Linked DNA regions of Homo sapiens: region 1 is linked to region 2. Evidence: fine-mapped expression QTL. A gene starts in region 2. The other region holds a variant in brackets. All regions are shown on one strand. Distances are from middle to middle. Region 1 has its middle 41 kb from the start of BPGM. Region 2 holds the start of BPGM (bisphosphoglycerate mutase).

The links.
Region 1: its variant is fine-mapped to the expression of BPGM in aorta (GTEx, PIP 0.96).

The regions. Positions count from the first base shown.
Region 1 is chr7:134,599,894-134,611,497 of GRCh38, forward strand. No RefSeq gene overlaps it. Among named protein-coding and RNA genes, the nearest start is that of BPGM, 41 kb to the right of the region's middle. The variant T/A (reference allele first, on the strand shown) is at 6,150.
Region 2 is chr7:134,641,094-134,652,697 of GRCh38, forward strand. BPGM (bisphosphoglycerate mutase) reads left to right here and starts at 5,760. Exons shown (of 3, transcript NM_001724.5): 1 at 5,760-5,844. The region is part of intron 1 of LOC124901750 (a long non-coding RNA gene); the gene reads right to left. RefSeq lists enhancers at 5,737-5,886, 5,987-6,096 and a silencer at 9,104-9,398.

The DNA of each region.
Region 1 (11,604 bases), 41 kb before region 2:
TTCAGCCATCTTGCTCTGCCTCCCCCATATAAATAATTAATATACATTCAAGAAACATCAATGGATGCTGAAACCAGTGGGTAAACATTTGATGAGGAATAGGATATCTGTCTCATCTCAAAGTACCTCTTTACAAAATGCTTATTAATTACTAAAAGCAGGTACTTTACAACTGAGAGACTAGCAGATCTCACTTGTATTAGTTTTCTATTGCTGCATGACAAATTACCACAAACATAACAGCTTGAAACAACCCATTTATGGTCTTATAGTTCTGTAAGTTAGAAGTCCAGGCAGTCCCCCTGAGTTCTTTGCCTAGGGTCTCCCAAGGCTGCAATCAAGGTGTTGGCCAGGCTGGGCTCTTCTCTGGAGGCTTTGGGGAAGAATCCCTCTCCCAGAATTCAGTTCCCTGCTACAATTAGACCAAAGTCTCTATTTCCTTGCTGGCTGTCAGATGGTGGTTGTGTTCCATTCCTGGAGGCCAATCACACAGTTCTGTGCTGTGGGTCTTCTCCATCTCAACAAGGTAGAGCTTCTCTGGAGGTGAATCTCTGCCACATCTCGAATATTTTTGACTTCTGCCATCAGCTCTCAAAAACTCTCTGCTTTTAAAGGCTGGATTTATTTAGATTAGGCCTACTTCGGTAATTGTCCATTTGCAATATAACACCATCATGGGAGTAATATCATGAGCCAAGGTCATAGGGCCATCTTAAAATTCTGCCTACCATACAATCTTAATCAAGTGATCAATTTAATATTACTAGTAATAGGACAAATTGAAATTGTGTACCACTTGATAGTATGCAGTGTGAAGAATCCGGCTTCAAATCTGTGATATCTCTGCTAAAGACGTATAATTTGAATCTAAACACTAGGAAACATCAGACAAACCCACAATGAGATAAATCCCACAAAATTAGTGGTCTGTAGTGTTTAAAATAGTCAAAATTATGAAATCATAAAAACTGAGAAATGGTTCCAAATCAAATAATATTAAAAAGACATGATAAATGAAATATGTAATTTTAAAATGGATCATTTGGCTAAAATGGATATTACTGGGGCAACTGAAAAAAAATTAATGATGTCTGAAACAAAATGATAGTAATGTATTAGAATTAATTTCCTCATTTCAATGGTTTAAATATAGTAAGAGGTGTAAGTCTTCGTAAGAATTGCACACTAATGCATTTAAGGGTGATGGGGTATCATGTTGGTAAAATACTCTCAAATTACTAAGGAAAAAAAGTTCTTTGTACGATTTCTGCAATTTTTCCTGAAATTTTTTTCTGAAATTATCCAAAAGAGAAAAAAAGAATCATTAGTTAGTTAATAAAGAAAATAAAAAAGACAAACTAGATACAAAGCAGAATTGAAAAGAAATGATTTGGGGAAGAATCTTACATATTCTTTTTAAAATCCATTTTATTTTATGTTGAACATTAAAAAAAACACCAAACATAAGGGTCTGTCCCCTTTACCAAATCAGTTTGCAAAAATGGAAAAATTGTTAACTGGGAAGAAACGTCACTAAATCAATGTGAGTAATAAAACTGGTTTTGCTGGCCATGGTGGCTCACGCCTATAATCTTAGCACTTTGGGAGGCCAAGGAGGGAGGATCTCTTGAGCCCAGGAGTTTAAGAGCAGCCTGGGCAACATGGCAAAACCCTGTATCTACAAAAAAGACAAAAATGAGCTGGGCATGGTGGTGTCAGCCTGTAATCCCGGCTACCCCAGGGGGCTGAGGTGGGAGGGTCTCTTGAGCCCGGGAGGTGGAGATTGCAGTGAGGCATAACCATGCACTCCGGCCTGAGCCACAGAGCAAGACCCTGTCTCAAAACAGAAACAAAAACAAACTTGTCTGAGTAGTTCTCAGACAATCAGTGTATCAAAATGGCAAAGCAGAATTTCAGAAGGACAGAAAAACAGTATTTGTTTCTACAGTATATTAAGAAGGTGATAAATGTTTTTAAAAGTATACAGAAATGTCAAGAGTTTTGTCATGGTCCCAGGGTTACAGAAAGACAATGACCTTCCTTTATGTGGCAATAACAGGGGTTATAACAGTTTTTAAAAACATTTCATAAGCAGTGAATATTTACTGATCATTCATGTTTCTCCTGGAATTCAACGCTTAATCAATATACAGGGTCTACCTTTTGGTTTCTGTAAAAACAAAAATCACCCAAGCTTAGGTTTTTTAATTGTCTTAGTAACATTATCAAACTCTAATCATCACCTGAGACACACATTTAAGGTTCTACTTTTTTTTTATAATAAACTGTAATGACTTCCACAGGTTGGTTCTCTGCAGTTTGGATTTCCACGTCCAGATATGGTCTGATCAAATGTTAAGTTTGCTGGCTGAGTTCTCGGCACCATGACTTTGCAGATGCACCTTGCTCACCCTGTCTTTAGATTTGGGATTTTGACTTTTGTTTGTACAAGATACATCGTTGTCACTCTCTCCCACCAAGGCCAGGGCTGTGGACTCTTGGAGGAGAGCAGGCTTGTGAGAATCAGAAACAGCCACATGTCCCCAGCTCATTCTTTCTCTTAAGAACCTCTTTTCCTGGTGCTAGTTATTGTAAAAAAAAAAAAAAAAAAAAAAAAAGTCCCAAAAAAGTTATTTTAAAAAAGTCCCACATCTCCCATGTATACTCTTCAGAAGAAACCACATGCCAAGTATTTTCTTAAAAGTACACAATCAGAAAATTAGTAAATTGGTAAAGTTAGAAACTACAACCCTTCCTAAAGTATTAATATTCCCACATCTGCCAAAAATAAAGTTCCCCCTCTTCTGCTTGCCTCTCAGATAATTTAACGTCAGAAGAGGCTTTTTCTGAACCCTATACTTTTTCTTGGCAACAATTTGGAGCTAGCCCTAAAGGCACTGGAACTCTTGAATCTGCTTCCTTAATTTCTGCTTCAGCTCTCAGAGGGAACAAGTGATCTTGGGAAAATACAACTTTCGGCTCCTTTTGTCTCCTCTGATTCCAACACTAAAGGGGCAGCTTCTGTCCGTTTAGCTTCACTTGATTTATTTATAAACAAACAGTTAATATTCTAAAGCAGAAAATCCTGCTGCAATTGGCGTGTCCTAATGTTTTGTAACTTAGTTCCGTTCTACCCACAAGCCGGAAACCAAGCATCCAGACAAGGACTTTAAACACTTGCTTCATCGTCATATTATCAGCTGCAATTTCACCCATTATGCATTCACTAGGTACAAAGCAGCACACTCATAGCGGCAAGCTCTACCACCTGAAAAACTAACAGCTTTGTCTCACTGGAGCCCTGCCCTTTTTCTGTGCAAGATGTGAGCTAGGGCTGGTAGAAAAGGTAACTCCAAGGCTAGCATGCAGCCGTAGGCTTCAGGCTGCAGGAGAAGGGATGTGGCTGATTTAGGAGGTTTAGCATGTGCCTGCCAGTCTAGAAGTGGAACCAAACGCATGTTCGCTGCTTGCGGAGTCTAATTAACAAGAGCGAGGTCTGGTAGAAAGAAAGTGACTTTATTAACCAACACTAGTAAAGGGGAAGCTGCTGGATTCCTCCTATCCAAAGGAACTGCTTTGTATCTAGCGGGGAAAGCAAGAGTTCAAAATGGGAAAACTTGGTAAGGAAGGCATGCAGGAATTGTGCTGATTCCAATGCCTGTGTGTCTTGCTCTGGTGGCTGTCTTGGGTCCCAGGCCACCTGGATCTCAGGCTGGCATCATCTTAACAATGGCTGGGTTGTTGACTAGTCACCTTGAAGTCATCTCTGGAATTCTGTAGCGGGGTCTCCAGACTTGGTCTGCCTAAAAATTAGCCCCATAATAATTATGTGCCTTTAGACACTAGCATGCAGTTAGATAAATGTGAAGGGACTATATTCGGTGAGAAAGAGGGACGTGGAGTCCATTTTAAGGCTAAGGAAAAAGGCTTCTGCAGTTTGCTTCAAGGTTATATGTTGAAATCCAAGAGAAAGGAAAAAAAACGTTTAAAATGCATTTTGAAGTTAAGTTGCCTAGTTACAGAATCATAGACTCGAGGCTGGTGGGGCCCAGAGGCACTGGAGGTCTTCTAGATCTTCAATATTACACACAGTCTGGCTAATGTTTAAACACCTCTAGGGATCAGGAATTCACTTCCCAACGAATATTTAGGAGAAAATCTTGTGTTTAGCAAGTCTTTCTTAACGTGCAGCTAAAATGCCATCTTCCTTTATCCTCCATTTGTAGATCTCAATTCTGCATGCAGTGACGGCACGGAACGGGTCTTTTCCTATTCCTAATGAAAGCCCTCCAAATATTTGATATAGGTCTTATATTCCTATGTTACACCCAATTGTTTTTGATGAATACCCCCAATTAATGGATACAGTTCAAATTCCACAAATTAAATTCATTTTTAAATTCAATTTATTAAAAATTGATTTATTAGTTTACTAATATTGATACATCAATTAAATTACATAACCTCAATTAATACAGTTCCAAATGGATGTGTGTTTAATACCCTTGGCTTTAAGAGAGAGAGAGAAGGCCGGGCACGGTGGCTCACGCCTGTAATCCAAGCACTTTGGGTGGCTGGGGCGGGTGGATCACGAGGTCAGGAGTTCAAGACCAGCCTCGCCAAGATGGTGAAACTCCGTGTCTACTAAAAATACAAAAATTAGCTGGGCGCAGTGGCAGGCACCTGTAATCCCAGCTACTCAGGAGGCTGAGGCAGGAGAATTGCTTGAACCAGGCGGCAGAGGTTGCAGTGAGCTGAGATCGCACCACTGCACTCCAGCCTGGGCGACAGAGCTAGACTCCGTCTTAAAAAAAAAAAATAACAAGAGAAAGACAGGAGGCTCCAGCTGAATCTTTTAGGCTGTCAGTACCTTAGTAGGGTCATTTTGAGACCAAGGTCCAGTCTACAGTTTTTGACATTTAAAAAATTATTTCTAAAAATGTATTTTTGTTAGTCCACTCAGGAATAATATCGGGGATGATCCATAATAATCTAGTCATTAAAAAACTGATAAATATAGTAGAATCTTACATAACTATTCAGAGAGATATATCCATCAAGCCGACTGAAACATATGTGCACCTGCCTGCTGGTCATATATGATCTTTTCAGTAGCCAGAAAACCTTTGAAAATGATTTGCATATCAGAAGAGTGATTATAATAAATAACTTAAGCCTGAGGCACTTACCATCTTGATTGATCCTAAGGACAGAGCACACTGCCATATGCCTGCAGCCCAGTGGGTAGATCCTCTTTTGATAGTTGTGGAGGGAGATTCTCATAAATTCTGGATGAATGATTCTTCCCTTTCAATATTCATTATCAGACATACAAGTCTTCCATCATCTCTGTATTTGGCAGTATGTGTAGTGGCTATGAGGCTTGTCTCTAGAGTAAGTATTTATCAAATGAAGGACTGAATACACAAACCACATGCCACCGGGATAGGATAAAGTCAGTTGAAGTTTAATGATGGGAGCATATTTTGCTGGAGTATAGTTTGAAAGCATTGCCTTTCCAGATAAAATTTGTAAAAGACGTCACCTCAGGCTCCTTCCTATGGTTTAGAAAACACTCCAGTTAGTAATGTTTGTAACATCTTTTGGGGGAGTAAGTTGATTCAGAGATGAGATACAGGATATCCATTTTTATTACTTTCTATTGAAGAGGGTGGAATTTCTATCTTCTCCATCCGACTGGGTACACCTACCCGGAAAGACTCTGTAGCTCCTATGCTCTTTCTACAGTAGAGAAGGGCTTCAGAGAGGACAGGATGGATGACCTCAGCCCCCCAGATAAAGGAGGATGTGAGCTCAACTGCTGCAGTTGGGGAAGCTGAAATGTGGTAAGGGATTTCAGGGAGTGGGGAAGGCTTAGAATACTTCCATGAGGAATCCCCTAAGAAGTTCATGAAGAATGAAAGTTGAACATTGAAGTCACCACTGAGGTTACATATCACATATTTAGAATTAAGTCACTGTGCAGACTTTTGTAATTTTCTGCCAAGCACCTGGCTGCCCAGAGAAAGAGAGATAAGAAGGTTGATTTTTTTTTTGTCTTTTTTCTTGTTTCCTTTTTGTGGAGAACAGGGTCTCGCTATATTGCCCAGGCAGGTCTCGAACTCCTGGGCTTAAGCTATCCTCCCGCC[T/A]CTTGTCTCCCTGAGAGCTGGGATTACAGGCGTGAGCCACCATGCCTGGCCAAGAAGTTTGATTTTATCTAGTGCTGGGAATTGCCTAAGTACAAAGGATTCCAGGAGGCCTAGTGACATTAACTGATCTTTAAATAGAAAATCGTTAAGGGTTGTTTAGCAGGAAATGTTTCAAAGCAGGGGAAAGGCTACCCATGTAGACAGATAGGAGATGATTATAGACAATTAACCTGAGAGTAACCTGTCATCTCCCCAATGGCTGAGGTCTCACCATTTCTCTGGTTTACACTTGCATGGGGCTTAAGATCTTCTTGGCCCCAGCTGACTGACCTCCCTGTATTATTTGCTATTGTTTGTTTAATTCCACTATTGTCTTACCCCTTCAAACTTCAGGCTTTCATTATAAATATTAATAATCTGACTTGGTGCCCAAGCTGGGGGACAGTCTAGTTGGGGCTCTGCTGCCACCTAGTGGTCTTTAGTCGCTTCGCATGTCTATGGTGTCTAGGCTACGAAGGGGGCAAGTGAAACCAAGAGACGGCTTGAATAGAAGCATTCAAGGGGTCTGGAGTTCACGACGAGGGTAAACAGAAAAAATTATGAGGTACCAGGAAGACAGAAGAATAATAGTTTGTAGTCTAGAAGAATTTCAGAGTTTGAGATCTTGATGATGGAGGAGTACTAGGGAGGATAATACCAAAGAAGTGGCTATGGTTGGGTGTGGCTGAAAAAGACTGAAGAAGATTAAAGTTGAAGGTCAAGGAGTTCAGGGTCAGTTTGTTGCAAGGGCCATTTACATTCTCCACTTAGAGGTGAGTGTCCCTGTGTTAGGGTCCACGTTTCGGTAATACGTATTTTTTATCTTCCACACTTCCCAATACAGTGTCAGCAAAATGTTGGTGGAATTGACTTGAGTGTTGAAGAAAAAAATCACTCACGATGATTGTAGGGGATGGAGTGATGATTATAACTTTGGACTTGCTGATCTATACTTTTAGATGAGAATGGCTTCAAATAGGCGGCTTTCTCAAGCCAGGCAGCTATTTTCACTCTTTCAGTGACTGCCCCAACGTATCTCCACTGGACAAATCTCCTCATTCCTGGTATTTTACAGTTTGTTGTGATTCCTTCTAAGGCAGGAGAATATCCTGGATGTTGCTGTGTGCTCATTGTCTGAAATGAGCACACCACATGTAGCAGTGCCCTTCTTACCTTTCCTGCCATTGATTCTCCATGTGAACTTTCTGTAAGCAAGATGTTCATCCAGGAGTTCTCCAAAGCCTACCTTCTTTTCACTCCTTTCTGAGTTTGTAAAAAATTTTGGGAGTCAGTTACTCTACTTTCCCATACTACTTCAGGAAATTTGGAATTCCTGCACATCTGTTTCCTGGGTAAGTTGGCTCTTGATTGCACTGTTTTCAGTCAGCTGGGTCTTTGGCCAACCCAGAGTATTCCTTTGTTAATTCCCACAAGCTAGAGGATTTCTAGAGATTTTTTTTCATTCCTTATTCTGTGGACTCTTTATTTCTTCTCACCCTAAATCATCTGCTTGCCTCACCCCTGCCCCACTCTGATTTAACTCCCATGTGGCTCATTAGCTCCAAGCCAGTTTGCAGCGACTCCCAGGCTCTCAGCTGCCTGAAGGATTGGCTGCCATAATGGACACTTTGATGACTATTCTGGTTGTCTCTTGATTCTTAGGACATCTTTGTAGGCCAGCCTATCTATAAGATGACTTCCTTCTTTGTCAGCTATAATAATGGATATTGATTTTTTCCTAATTTTTCATTATAGGAATTTTGAACATATAGAAAGTTAGAGGGAATAGTGTATTGAATGTAGTGTACATATCACTCAGCTTTAGTATCATTTACGGACAATATTATTTCATCTGTACTTTTTTACTTCCCTGATTATTTTGAAACAAATCCTAAACATCATATCCTTTTATCTGTCAATGACAGTGCATAGCTTTAAAAAATAAGAACACTTATTGTGTCTCACCTAAAAATTAGCAAAATTTAGCAAACAAATTTCCAAAGTCATTCAGACTAGAATAATAGTGGTTGAGAGTAGCTCTTCTTGTTTAGAAAAATTTTAGTTTCAGCCTGAGCAAAAACCAAAAAATCACAATTAAGCTTTACCACTGCTAAGCCATTAAATTCTTGTTGATAGGGCAATTCAGGATATTCAGCTTCTATTTTTGACAAAAAAATCATAGAACTGCAGATGTTTACACCACAAAAGTGAATAAGGTCCATTTTGGACATGACCTGTTCAATAACATATGATAGAATCAAACATGTTATGCAAAGTACCTACTGATGAATGATTACAGGTTTTAACATCTTACTTTTTCACAAGCTTTTAAATGAGTCCATGTAACCCTTTGTCTGCTTCACACAAATTTTTACCACCGTGTAGCACATCTTAGCAGATTCTACTTCAGATTATACTGAATTAGAAATTTTACCAACTTCTTTGAAAATATTATTCTCACTTGTAGTTATTCCATACAGACTATTCATAGAACCTAATTCTTTAGTTACTTCAAACTTAGCATTGATACCTCAAGTAAAAAACAACAGCTGAGCAGTATCAGTAGCATCTGTCTATTCATCAAGAGACAAGGAAAGATACTCAGAACAATTAACTTTGTTTTTAACTATTGATGTTGCTCCCAATGTCCTCAACTTTTCAATCAACTTTTGTTACCAAAAGACTCACAGTCTTGAACAAGTTTATTTTCTGCGGACACATTTCTTCAGCTAATAAAAACACAGTTTAATTAGCTTACCATTGATAAATGGGTTTCCTTGCTTGCTAACAAATGAACCACTTGGAAACTAAGTTTGGTTGCAGCCTCATTTACATTTGTAATTCTTGTGAAGAAATTCCACTATAATAAGATATTCTATTTTAAATTTCCTAATTGTTCTGCCTGTTGCTTTCCTGTGAATTGGACATATTGTGATGAGTGCTTAGTCTGGCAATGTTGACATATATTCTGTTGTTTTAGCATAGTTATAGTGTCAGTGCATACTAAACACATGCTTTCCGATCTAATTCAATTAAAAAAAAGCCAGATGCCACAGTAACTTAAAAGTGCAACATTTGAAGTTGACTTTTCTTGTTTTGACATGAAAGATATGCACTGATAAAATAAAATAAAAGTAAAACAAGTATGCTTGGCACTTGAAACACTGTCAAGTCAACTCACTAAGCAGCAGTAAGAAGTGATGAAGATTTCACAAATGGTCCCTGTTGCAACTCTTCAACTTTGCTGTTGAAACTCAAATGCAGCCATAGACAATATGGAAATGAAAAGTGTGCTATGCTATAGTAAAACTTCATTTATAATATTCAGCTTTAATTTAAAATAATTTTCATATCATAAAATATTATTGTTCTTTAGATTTTTTTTTCAATTATTAAAAAACGTAAAAACTGGCCGGGCGCGGTGGCTAACGCCTATAATCCCAGAACTTTGTGAGGTCAAGGTGGGCGGATCACTTGGGGTCAGGAGTTCGAGACAAGCCTGGCCAACATAGTGAAATTCTATCTCTACTAAAAATACAAAAATTAGGCCAGGAACAGTGGCTCACGCCTGTAATCCCAGCACTTTGGGAGGCGGAGGTGGGCTGATCACGAGGTCAGGAGATCAAGACCATCCTGGCTAACACGGTGAAACCACGTCTCTACTACTAGCCAGGCGTGGTGACATTGCACCTGTAGTCCCAGCTACTCAGGAGGCTGAGGCAGGAGAATCGCTTGAACCCAGGAGGCGGAGGTTGCAGTGAGCCGAGATCACACCACTGCACCCCAGCCTGGGCGGTAGAGCGAGACTCAGTCTCAAAAAAAAAAAAAAAATTAGCTGGGCATGGTGGTGCATACCTGTAATCCCACCTACTCAGGATTCCACTGCTGAGGCAGGAGAATCGCTTGAACTCAGGAGGCAGAGGTTGCAGTGAACTAGGATGGCACCACTGCACTCCAGCTTGGGTGACAGAGTGAGACTCCTTTTCCAAAAAAAAAAAAGTAAAAACCATACCAAAGGCTGGATGTGATACATGGGCCATAGTTTGGCAATCCCTGGTCTAGATCAAGGCACCTCTAAAAATTTCACAGATGTGTCATGCCCTTGAATATTTGTAGGGCTTATCTTCTATCACCTGAGGTGCAGATGCCTTACTTAGGCATTGAGAACTCTAGTCACTTTTTGCTACCAGGTCTGCTTGGCATGATCTCATCAAAATAGTGGAACAATGACCAGAATGTCCAGGTGATCAAGGTCCATCATCTGTCTAGTTCAAACAAGGACCAAACTGGTAAATTGAATGGGTTTTCATGGGGAGAATCACTCCTGCATCCTTTAAGTGTTTGAGGAAGACACAAATCACTTCAGGATGCAGCAAGTAGCTACTTGAGGAAAGATTGTGAATAGCTACTTTAACTACTTGCTATGGCATTGCTGGCACTTCCTCAAGGGGACATGGCCCTTTAATCAGTGTATTCTAAGTCTTAAAATGGCCTTAGTTCTTAAAACGGGACAAGAGATCATGATTCCCTATCATGTGCTGACCAACCCAAGGTGTTTTTCAGATTATTAATCAAACAATATCTTAATGTATGTAGCTGCTAGGATACCATAGTTTATTAGTCTTAGGCTCCCTAGTTGTTACTCTGGCCTTGTTACCCATTAGGGTAATTGAGTATACCTGTCTTCCTGCAAGGTTGTTGTGGAAATTAACGCAGCAGCTAATTTCAACAATCCTACCTTTCGACAGTTTTATGCTGTCATCTGGCTATTCTAGATCCTATCATTCTTATTGACACCAGGGAGCCCAGTTTCTGAGAGTGTCTCCTACTATCAATCTTGACCTACAGAGGACACACAACATTGAGTTTCTCAAGGTGCTAGTGCCTCCTTTATGAATGCTTTATTCCTTATTGCTTTAGTAAAGAGAGCATCCTCTGGGTCCTCATGGGAAACATAATCATCTAGTGGTTCTTTGGTGTCTCACAATACATCAGTTCTAACATGCCTACCTTTCTGAACTTTTAGATCCCTTCCTCTGCCAAGGAATTTCCAGCATCTCTACCTCATTTACTGCAGACATAATTGTTTACAAGCTGCAAGGAGCTATTTTAGCAGTTTATTAGCAGTGGCTCCAGCTATCCATACCAGGACAAGCTCGGGGAGGAGAAAGCAAAGAGCAAGGAGAATGAAAGAACAGACCACACGCCTTCTTCCCTCTGTTAAATCCATCAACCAAAAATCAGTTCTGAACTGTGGGAGGGGAAACATGTTGAAATGCATTACAGTTTGAAGTTTTTAGCCAGATAGTACATTTTAGTACCTGAAAAGTCAGATTGTTTTAACACACAATAGTGGCTGGAAAGTGATTGCCTATGATATCTCCAAGGAACAGGGAAGAGAGGAGAACCAATGGTA
Region 2 (11,604 bases):
AGGTGATGGTAGCTTGGGCTAAGGTGTTGGTAGTGTGTTAGGGGTGTGGTGTGTCTGTGAATAGGATGAGGAGGATGGAAAAAAATATTTGAAACATAAACCTTGATTGATACTGATTTGGATTAGATTGTGTAAAGAGGCTTTAATGAGACATTCTAGAAATTACACTTCCACGTAAGTGTCACTGCCTTCTAAGTGTTATATTATGAGGTTACACACCCATTTCAAAGATGCTTCATGGGTGTCAACAATTCTGAGAAGCTTCTTTCAGAACTTACGTCAGAACCAGTGTATAAACCATAGCAGAAAAATAGGCTTATTGCTATATAGAAAATATTTCATAAATCCCCAAAGCTAAGGAAACAAATATGTGTGTAATGTTCTTAAGTTGATGCAGGGTTCATAAAGACTTCCTTTTATGAGTTTGACCTTCCAACTTGTAGAGTGAGGTCACTTCTTTAAGAAAATATGCATGTATGTAGGGGAAAAGTTATGTTATCTGAGTCTTCATCAAAGAATGAGGATATGTTCTTTTATCCAAGAGCTAGCTGACTGGGGAAGCCCATAGGCAGAAGAAAATCCTGGTCAGGAGGGGTTTTTTAATTTTATTTTTAGGGAGCAGATAAATACATCTTAGATGACTGACAACAAATTTTCCAAAGAAAAGAAGAATGAAGTTATATCAATAAGTTTTTAGGAGCAGTGCATGGTGGGAAGAGCTTAGAACAAAGGCTAAGAGTCAGACTCTGGTTTTGTAACTAGCTGTGCAGTCTTAGAAAAATTATCTCTCCCAGTTTTACTTTCCTCATCTGTAAATGGGGACACATATGCCAGGAGTTTTGTGAGGATTTACTGATGGAGCCCTGATAGTTTGGCTGTGTCCCCACCCAAATCTCATCTTGAATTGTATCCCCCATAATTCCCACTGTTGTAGGAGGGACCTGGTGGGAGATAATTGAATTATGGCAGCGGTTTTCCCCATACTGTTCTCATGATAGTGAATAAGTCTCACGAGATCTAATGGTTTTATAAGGAGAAACCTCTTTCGTTTGGTTCTCATTCTCTCTTTGCCTGCCGCCATCCATGTAAGACATGACTTGCTCCTCCTTGCCTTCCATCATGTTTGTGAGGCTTCCCCAGCCACATGGAACTGAAACTTCAATTAAACCTCTTTCTTTTGTAAATTGCCCAGTCTTGGGTATGTCTTTATCAGCAGTGTGAAAATGGACTAATACAAACTCTGATTTCCATCCACCATCCCCTCCATATCACCTCCCCACCCTGGCTCCTCAGCTAAACACCTTTTCTTCAGGTTAAAGAATAGAAAACTCTGTGGAGACAGAGGGTAAGCAGAAATCCTTCAGTAGCTATCAGGCTACTATCTTCACCTTTCTTAGCTCTGTAATATCAGAACATAGAGAAAAAAATTCCTGGCCACTTTATCAGTCTCCATGAAGAAAGGGTGGAGCCAGTAGGCATTGCCATTGGTTCAGTAGACATTCCCGGAGCACCGTCATTTAGAGAAAGCAGCAGCCCATTTAAATCAATGAATCTTTTTAGGAAACTGAAACAAGTTCAATGCCCAAGAGTAGAGAATTGGTTGGACAGTTCTCTACTCTTGTACATACCACCTGGATGCACATTCACGTAATGGGATTATATACGGAAGAAAAATATTAAATGACATTGGGACATGTTAATAACAAATTAAGTAGAAAAGATTGCCACAAAACAGTATATATACTAAGAGTCCAGGTTTTTTTTTAAGTAATTGATTTATGGGAAAAATAGGATATACAAAATGTTAAAAATAAATTCTGGAGGGTGGGATTATAGGTATTTTAAGTTTTTTCTTTTCTAAACCTTATACAATAAACATTTTAAAACATAAATTTATAATTAATAAATATAAGCTTTAAAAAAAACTCCATAGGGCAGAGTTTGTGTTTACCAGCATATAAACAACAAGCATTTAAAGAAACATGGGTTTTTCCTTAGTGGAGTAGAGAATTTGTAAAAGAGGAAAGCACCTCTCTTGATTCCTCATGTTTCTACCTTTTTCCCCTATCCTTGTCCCAGATCTGAAAGTAGTGGGGAAAAAAAATCAACCTGGCTCTTTTCCTATGCCAAGGTGCTTAGTCAATGTTTAGTTTTACTGTAGGGGAATTTCACATAGATCAGGCTTCCCAATACCAGAGGTTCCTGGCTCTGCCACTGGGTCTGTACCCTCTTTGGCATTCACTTCCTGCCCATTACCTCCCTGGGTAGCTGCAAGATAGCTGGGGAAATCCCAGTCTCATGCCCTCTGCAAGAGTCCAGGTCTCCACTTGAGTGGAGAGCAGGAAAAAGAGGCAAGCGCAATGCCAAGACTTTACTGAGTAATTTGAATAAGAATACTTGTAAATAGGTAAAATGCTTTACATTTATCATTACCATAATTGTTAAGAATAACAACTACCATTTATGAGATGCTTTCCATGTGGCAGGCACACATCACATTATCCCACTTAATTTTCACATTAGCGATTTGGGTATTATCTCTGTTTAACAGATAAAGACACTGAGGCTGAGGTCAAGCAATTTGCCTAGGCTATTCTGCATTTTGCTAGCCTAGCAAAACCATTGGCTCCTTCCTTCCAGCAAACTCTAGAGTTAGCTATGATTGTGAGGCTTCCCCAGCCACATGGAACTGTAAGTCCAATTAAGCCCCTGAGTTCCCAGTGCTGGAAAGTGACAGACACAAGGTGCTTCAAAGATTGCAAAGCTATTCCAAAACTGCCTCCATGATTCTTCACCCTACTCTGTGAGGAAGATGAGGATTCTAAGTTTTAACTTCTGAAAGAAAGGGACAGACTTTAAGGTCCCTTCTGAGAGGTCTGGATGGCTGACCCATAACAGCATTTCCAGTTTTTAGTTTCAGAAAAGGGAGTCTTGTACTTAGGAGGTCAATGATGGGGGCCACGCATAGGTCTATTATACTAGGTTACGAGTGGTAAATTTTAATCTGACCCTGAAGTAAGTAGGGTACAGTTGGAGACTAAACACTGGCAGCAAATAACCAACTCATGGTGTGTCCTGATACTGTGAAGAAAAGGAGACACTCCTGTACATGGCATATAGAACTAGCTAACTCTGGAGTTTGCTGGAAGGAGGGAGCCAATGGTTCTGCTAGGCTAGCAAAAGGGAGAATAGCCTAGGTCCGTGGATGATGTTTTGATGCACGGTGGACCAATTCAGCCATACGTGGAAAAGGCTAGAGGCTCTGTGCACATAACTGTGAAATTATTTTGACCAGGTATGTATGCTATCAATAAAATAGTGGTTTATTCAGGTCACAAGGAAGACAATTTTCAACTAAAACTCAAAGTATCACATGGGTTAATACTGACTTTTTGATATACACCTGTAACAGAAAGGAAGACAAAGAGACAACATAGCTATAATAATTTATTGCTTTTCATTTCTTGTTTGGATAAAAGTGAGACTACATCAAAAGCTGTTTGATGACACTGAATTATTTTCATAGTATCTATATCACTTGCTGTATCAGAACTGAAGTCCTCATGACTGGTCTTCAATGGAAGTGAATCCTAAAATTAATCTTAATTTAAAAAATACATTGCTTTTGGGGTGAGGAGGAGAAGGCAGCAGGAAGAGGAAGCATCTTCCCAGAATTATATGAATTAGCAACCTTGGGTCCTAGCCCAGGATTTGTCCCCAACCAAGTAATTCTGAGCACATCACTTAAGCTTCAGTTTCTTTATCTGTACAACAAGGAGCTAGAGTTTAATTTCCAAAGCCCTGTCAAGTACTAAGTTTGTACAAGTCTAATATTCTTTGGAGTTCATCTTTGCCTTAAATGGATTTATGATCATCTTTGTGAACCACGACCTCGTTATTTAAAAATTCATAAGAGAGACAGCTCATCGAATAGACCAGGACACAGGGTTCAGGATATGATACTGTAACATAATTAAGTATGGAGAACAATCTTGCCATAGGGCAAAAGTAACTCCTGAAATTCTGTTAGCCTCTGTGCACATTTGTCTTACAAACATGCTTGCTCCTGATGAAAATCTGCTTTTTAATTCCTTCTAGACAGAATCACTGATATAAGCTTCCATCTTATATCAAAATGACTCATTCATAAGCCACATACTCTTGCGAATGATTCTAAAAGGCAAGTGATGTTTGATATTAAGGTTTTATGTGACAAGCTAGCATTCCATGGGTGTCCATAACAACAGTAAACTTAAATCCAATGAGTAGGCGCCCTTAAGTCCAGACTAAGTAGCCCTAAATGCCAAATGCCACAAGACTGTCACTTGGTAATGACTGTCATTAGCCTCCGGAGTATGGATGGTGGGCACTCTGAATAGGAGCTTTATTACACTGTAGAAGAAAAGCTTTCTCCTTACTTTGTCCTCAACTGATATTGAGAAAAAAGCAAGAGGGCAAATGTATAAGATTTGGAAGCTGCCCCTTCCAGCTGTTCTGGCCTGAACTCTAGTTAATCTTGTGCAAGTTAAATTCTAACTATCACTAGGTGAGACCTATCACCTGCTGGGACCTGTCAAGCCTCGGATTAGTGCCGTCCCGGAAGTAAAGTTCTGTTGATATCCCAGGAGGAACTGTCATGCTCTAACATGGATAAATGAGATACAGAACTGGCTACGATTAGGTCTTAATGAGTTCAATAAAGAGTGTGTCACAGAATTTCAAATGTGGAAAGATTATCTTTTCAACTGTATGTATAATTTATTCTGAGGACTTGCTTGCGTGTCACAAACCTAATGCATTTGTTAGGAGGATGAAACAGGAAAAACTCACAGGAGGACACGAAACACTACTTAGGATAGCTTCTAAGAAGGGAATCTCCCATAACATTCCTTATCTTTCCCGCCCACCCAAGAGTTCTGACACATATGCTTCAAAACCTCGTGTGGTAGTTCAAGCCTGCTTAGAAGCTTTTAAGGCCTCGTGCCAGGTTTCCGGTGTTTTCATAGATTTCTCTTGTTCAGTTATTGTCGCCTCCAAATTTGTCATTCTCTCATTCCACTCTAGCCTCCCTTCCTCTGTGCAATAAGCTTTTAGGGCATTCCATTAATCACTTTTCTTCCCCACCTAAAATACTGTCAGCAAACTGCCTAGGGGAATCCCTATAAAAGCGGTAAGAGAAAGTAAGGTTGCGTTACTGCCTATAAATTGGGCACTTTAAAGGCATTTGTTTTAATCACGACTTAAGACTTTCAACCACGAGTAATTTGTGCGAAAGGAGCTTCTTCTGGGAGGATACCTCGGCTTCGTCTTCAGGTTTCAATCCCTAAATTTCCCATAAGTAAAAGAAACATCACCTCCTCTCTTCCAAGAGTCCGCTGACACCTGTCTTCACCCGCAGGTGTTTCTTTTAAGACGTTAAACGCTTTCTAGAACCTCAAACAGCTAAGATGCTCCCCGCACCCGAGGTTTTGCACCAGCGACGCTCTAGGGTGTGTTTTTCTACTTCCCTAGGCCCAAGCCTGCCCGCTGGCGTCGAAGCCAACTCCTTACTGGTTCAGGTATGTGCTCGTCTCTAGAGTAAACCAATCAGAGCCCCACTTCTTACTCCTGGGATTTGGTAAACGGAAGAGACCTCTCCTGTTCCGGGAGTAGGCCGGGACCGTGGATGAGTGACAGTTCGACTTTCCAATAGGCAGAGCCCTAGGACCTGCCCACGTCTGGTTCAGGGGCTAGAAAAGAGCGTCGATGCCGGCGGCAGTGATGAGTCCTAGGAGGCGCTGGCTCTTTGGCGGCTCGGAGGAGCGGCTGCTGCTGCTGCTGCTGCTGCTGGTGGCCCCTTTGCAGGTGAGTGGCTTTGTTTTAGAAAATGTTGCGAACGTTTACATTTTTTAGTGATGTGATGTTTTATTTTTGGGTGCGGGGAAGGCCAGTTTCTTTACTTCCCCCGGTTTAGTCGTTGGTGGGAGTCTGGTGCCCACTCCAGCCCTCAAGCTGGGACCCTCACTTATCGCCCCGGTCCCTTTCCCTTGTCCCTATCTCAGAATGAGCCTCGCAGGCAGTCACCGTTCTGTCAACTGAGAGGAGGAGCCCGCTTTGGTAGTGCTGTCCTTATGGCAAGAATATATAGAAGTTGGAGGGAAGATAAACTCTCTTCTGGATGTCTGAGGTACTGTGTAGCAGAGCCCTTCCAATAGTAAGATCCCCTGGAAGGAAGCAGGGCGATGCCGCTGTATTTAGGGTTCTGGCAGACCTGGCCCTATCTATCATTTTGTGTAGTAGACAGAAAAACTCGAATGCGGTGAAAAGAGAAGGAGGTGAATATATGCAGTGTTTTCATGTAGGAATCTGGAGCCAAATCACAAGTTCTTAGAACCACTAGAAATAAAAACGTAAGTGTATTTTCCTCTTTTCTAAGGGACGAGCTGGTATTACACTAGAGAAGGTCAATGAAATGCATAATTGCAGTTAAGTTCACAGTTAAGCTTTAAAGAATAGTTGGTTGTTAGCTAACTTATAACTCTCATCCCCCTACTGCCTCCCTTGCAAATTACGGAAGATCTTTAGCTTGTGAGTGGTACTAGAATGTTAGCTGACTAAATGCAGACTCTTTCCAAGAAGGGGAAAAATCAAAAGCTAAGTTTCACCTGTAGGTACTAAAGGTTTTTTAATAGTGAAAGCAGAACTCATGTCAATTTGTCTTTTATTTTTTATTTTTTTTGAAACGGAGTCTCGCTCTGTCGCCCAGGCTGGAGCGACTGCAGTGGCTCGATCTCGGTTCACTGCAACCTCCGCCTACCGGGTTCAAGTGATTCTCCTGCCTCAGCCTCCCAAGTAGCTGGGATTACAAGCATAGGCCACCACGCCTGGCTGATTTTTGTATTTTTAGTAGAGACGGGGTTTCACCATGTTGGCCAGGGTGGTCTTGAACTCCTGACCTCAGGTGATCTGCCTGCCTCGGCCTCCCAAAGTGCTGGGATTACAGGCGTGAGCCACCGTGCCTGGCCTTGTCTTTTTTCTTTCTTTCTTTCTTTTGTTTTGGTTTTTTTTTTGTTTTGTTTTCAGACGGAGTTTCGCTTCTGTTGCCCAGGCTGGAGTGCAATGGCGCGATATTGGCTCACCGCAACCTCCGCCTCCTGGATTCAATCGATTCTCCTGCCTCAGCCTCCCGAGTAGCTGGGATTACAGGCATGCGCCCCCACGCCCAGCTAATTTTGTGTTTTTAGTAGAGACAGGATTTCACCATGTTGGCCAGGCTGGTCTCGAATTCCTGACCTCAGGTGATCTGCCTGCCTCGGCCTCCCAAAGTGCTGGGATTACAGGTGTGAGCTACCGCGCCCGGCCTTCTTTTTTTTTGAACTGCCTCCCGTGAGTCCAGGGAATAGCTCTTTCTTAGCCATCTTTGTATTCCAGTAGCACCTCATACACCGCAGATGCTCCCCAGTTGGTGGTGGACTTCAGAGAAGCATAATTCAAACAGTGTCATAGTGGAAGGAGCTCTGAGTTAGAAATCAAGAACATTGGCTTTAGTCCTGAAACTGTTACTATTTGTGTGATCTTAAACAAATCATTTCAACTGTGACTCTTAATTTTTGCATTTTTTTTTTGAGACAGGGTCTCGCTCTGTTGCCCAGGCTGGAGGGCAGTGGCGCAATCTCTGCTCACTGCAACCTCCACCTCTGCCTCCTGGGCTCAAGCGATCCTACCATCTCGATTTTTGCATCTTTAGAAAGCAGATGTTGCATTAAATTATATCTGAGATATAAACTCTGTATTTAAAGTCTGTTTTAAAGTAAAAATTATTAGTATACAAGCAGAATCTCATTGCAGTAAATTCTGTACCATCTATTAGCAAGTAAAAGTTCCCAGCTTCAAGGATATATTCTTGTTTTTTAATTTTTAATTTTTGTGGGTACCTAGTAGGTGTATATATTTATGGGTTACATGAGATATTTTGACATAGGCATGCAATGCATAATCACATCAGAGTACATAGGGTAGCTGTCACCAAAAGCATTTATCCTTTATGTTTCAAACAATCCAATTGTACTCTTTTAGTTATTTGAAAATTTACAATTAAATTGTTTTTTTTTTTACTATAGTCACCCTGTTGTGCTAGCAAATACTAGGTCTTATTGATCTTCCTATTTTTGTCCCCATTACAAGGATATACTCTTTTGTGTTCCTATTTAAACCAAACCAGATTATTGTAGAAAATTTGGAGCATACCGAAGTATAATGTGGCAGAAAAATGTCACTTAGAAGCAACTACTGTTAGTGTTTGGGTAGAGCTTTTAGTCTTTCTTCCTCTTTTGCCTGCTGTGGTTGGTTGAGATTAAGAGGCACATTTTAAGTAATGATTGATGCACCTAAATTCACCTGGCCTTCATCTTTGTGTGTCTGGGGCCTGAAGAACAGAGGTCACAAACGTGTTTGAACCGAATGGTTTCTTGAAACATCCTTGGAATGAAATCTGATATGAAAGATGTTTATATGGGTGGCAGGACAAAAAGTATTACTTAATAACAAAACCCTTCTGCTGAAACTTAGCCACAAATATGAGGAAAACATACTTTGTAAAATATAAATTAAATGTTAACCACTTCATTAAAGCATTTGGATTGCAGAATATTAGTACTTGGTAAGCTTCTGAGACTGTATCTTACCATCACCTTCTTCCATCCCACAATATTTGATTGCATTCCTCCTTCTACCACCTAATTTAAGCATTTCTCCTCTAATTCCTCCCTTCATTTTACTTTATTCCCAGCTTTCGCTTCTGCTCATATCATCGGCAAGGTAGGATTGCTTTGACGGGCCTGAGATCTGTGCCATTATTTATGAGTTAGTCAAAGTCTGCTCCATTCTACCTCTCACTTTTTGGTAGAGTGCTTCACCATAATCTCATTTAATCTTTCTGATAGCCCCCTGAGAACAGTAGTTTCATGATCCTCATCTTTATAGATATGGAACCTGAGGTTCAAAGAATTTAAATAAGTTAAGATCACATTGTCAGTCAGTAGCAGAGCTGGGCTCATATCTAGGTTGTTTTTACTTTAGACTTTTGGAATTTGGTGGACACAGTTTGTGTTGATAAAAGCTACTACCCTGGGGAAGACAATGACCAGAGATAGGAAGGAGGGGTCCGTCATGAGTGGGTGTTGTCCACAGTGGTGATGCCATGCAGGCTGGAACATGCAACATGCCCTGAGCAAATGCACATCTCATTACATATGTATATCTCTTCGCCATGAGTAGGGATCTGCCTGGTATGGTTGGTTATTCTTGTAACAAGCAATCAGTAGGAAATATTAGTAGATGTAAGATTGGGGAATGAGAGGGTTTTAGTGTCTGGAAAACACCTGTAAGTGGTAACATTTGCTCCTGTAAAATGATGTTCTTATAACTGCAAGTACAGATGAAAAAGTTTCTACAAAGCCTTAGGAAAAGTAATAGACCATGGAACACTTTTAGGTACAGTTGTGTTTGAACTTCTAATAGTGAACTTGATTTGGGGGAAGGCATAGTTTGTTAAGACATTAAAAGCCTTGGCCGAGCACGGTGGCTCACGCCTGTAATCCCAGCACTTTGGGAGGCCGAGGCGGGCAGATCACGAGGTCAGGAGATCAAGACCATCCTGGCTAACATGGTGAAACCCTGTCTCTACTAAAGATAACAAAAAAAATTAGCCGGGCGTGGTGACGGTCACCTGTGGTCCCCGCTACTCAGGAGGCTGAAGCAGGACAATGGCACGAACCTGGGAGGCGGAGCTTGCAGCGAGCCGAGATCACGCCACTGCACTCCAGCCTGGGCGACAGAGTGAGACTGCGTCTCAAAAGAAACATTAAAAGCCTTAAGGAACTGAGCCCCAGATTTCATTTCCCTTGAGACCTGTTCCTTTTTACTTTGTTAAAGACATGGTTCTTTTTCTCTGTCCTCAAATAATAGCCAGCCCATCTTCTATAAAGTTAGATTCCTCTTGCAGTGGGGGTTAAAAGTTGCTCAAAGCCACACAATAAGGGGTTTGGACCAAGGAAAACGTCATCTGAGTGTCTAGGGTAGCAACTGACTAATATTTAAATGTGAGCTTTGAATCTAAGTGACTCTGGTTCTATTTGTCTTATTTTATATAACTTCAACATTATATTGCTGATCAAATTTCTTGCTTAAACGTTGGAAATACAAGAAAAACTAGGTTTTTAAGTTGGACTTTACCCTGTAGTTTGTCCTATTTGTCCGTGAGTTGTACCACTAGGGTCTTAGGCATTATTAACTTTCAAACACGTGAGGAAGGGAGGAAGCAAAGTCCCAGGAGTGTCAGTTTGGAAGACAGGATGAGCCTCAGTTATGGGGAGTACTTATAACAGAGGAGCCTCAGTTATGGGAGAAATATAATGTGAAATTATATTTCACATAATTTCATATGTGGAATTATATAGTTTAATGAAGGAGTAGGAAGCAGCAGCAGATGATCATGCTACATTTGTTGAAAGTACTTAGGGATCTCAAAAATATTAAGAGGGGTAACCTTAGTAAATGCAGTGCCTTGCAAGTACATCACTCCCCTATCTACAGTCCCTGTCTTGCCAAAAAGAATGCTAATCTTGAATCATAATTTTATGTTTCAATTTTATGGTGGCATTATGGAAAGAATATTCTTTGCTTTATAGCTAACTTAGATGGAATTTCTATACATTTATAGTGAAAGATCTTTGAAAGTTATAAGTCACCTGCAAAGTATGTTCTTTGATTTGTTTATTGTCAAAGCAATTACATAGCACCTACTCCTGAGCAAGTATACATTCCCCTGAAGTGTGAGGCACTATGGGATAATTTATGAAGATGTCTAATGGGGTAAAGTGTGTCAAAATGACAGATGATATTTTTGAAGGAGATTAACAGGATGAATCCTATAGTTTTCCCCTATAGTTCAATCTTGAACCTATTCCTAAATAATTTAGTTAAGCAAAAGTCAAGTACTCAGACTGATTTAAATGTCTTCAGTATTGCCTTCTGTGAGGAATAAAAACAATTATGAATGGGATTCCATTACTCATGGTACTTGCCGTTCTGGCCAAGAATAAAATCTAGTGATTTCATAATGTTGGGATTATTCTATGACGGGATGCTTAAAGGTTAAAAATGCTGATGTCATTAGTAGATCTAAGTGTGGGATCCAGCTAGGCCAATATCGGCATATTGAGGGCTTCTGGCCTATACCGTTTTTTAAAAAATTTACATTTTTAATTTTAAATTATGGATGCATAATAGTTGTATATATTTATAGGTATATGTGATGTTTTGGTACAGATATACAATATGTAATGATCAAATCAGAGTAATTGATTTACCTCATGCATTTGTCTATTACCTCATGCATTTATTTTTTGTGTGTTGGGAACATTCTAATTCCATTATTTTAGTTATTTTAAAATGCAATAAATTATTATCACCCTATTGTGCTACTGAATACTGATCTTATTTATTCTAACTATAGTTTTGTACCTGTTAACCATCCTCACTTTAACCCCCTCGCTCCTGTTACCTTTCCCTGCCTCTGGCAACCATAATTCTGCTATTGCAATACATTCAATTTTCAAAATTTTT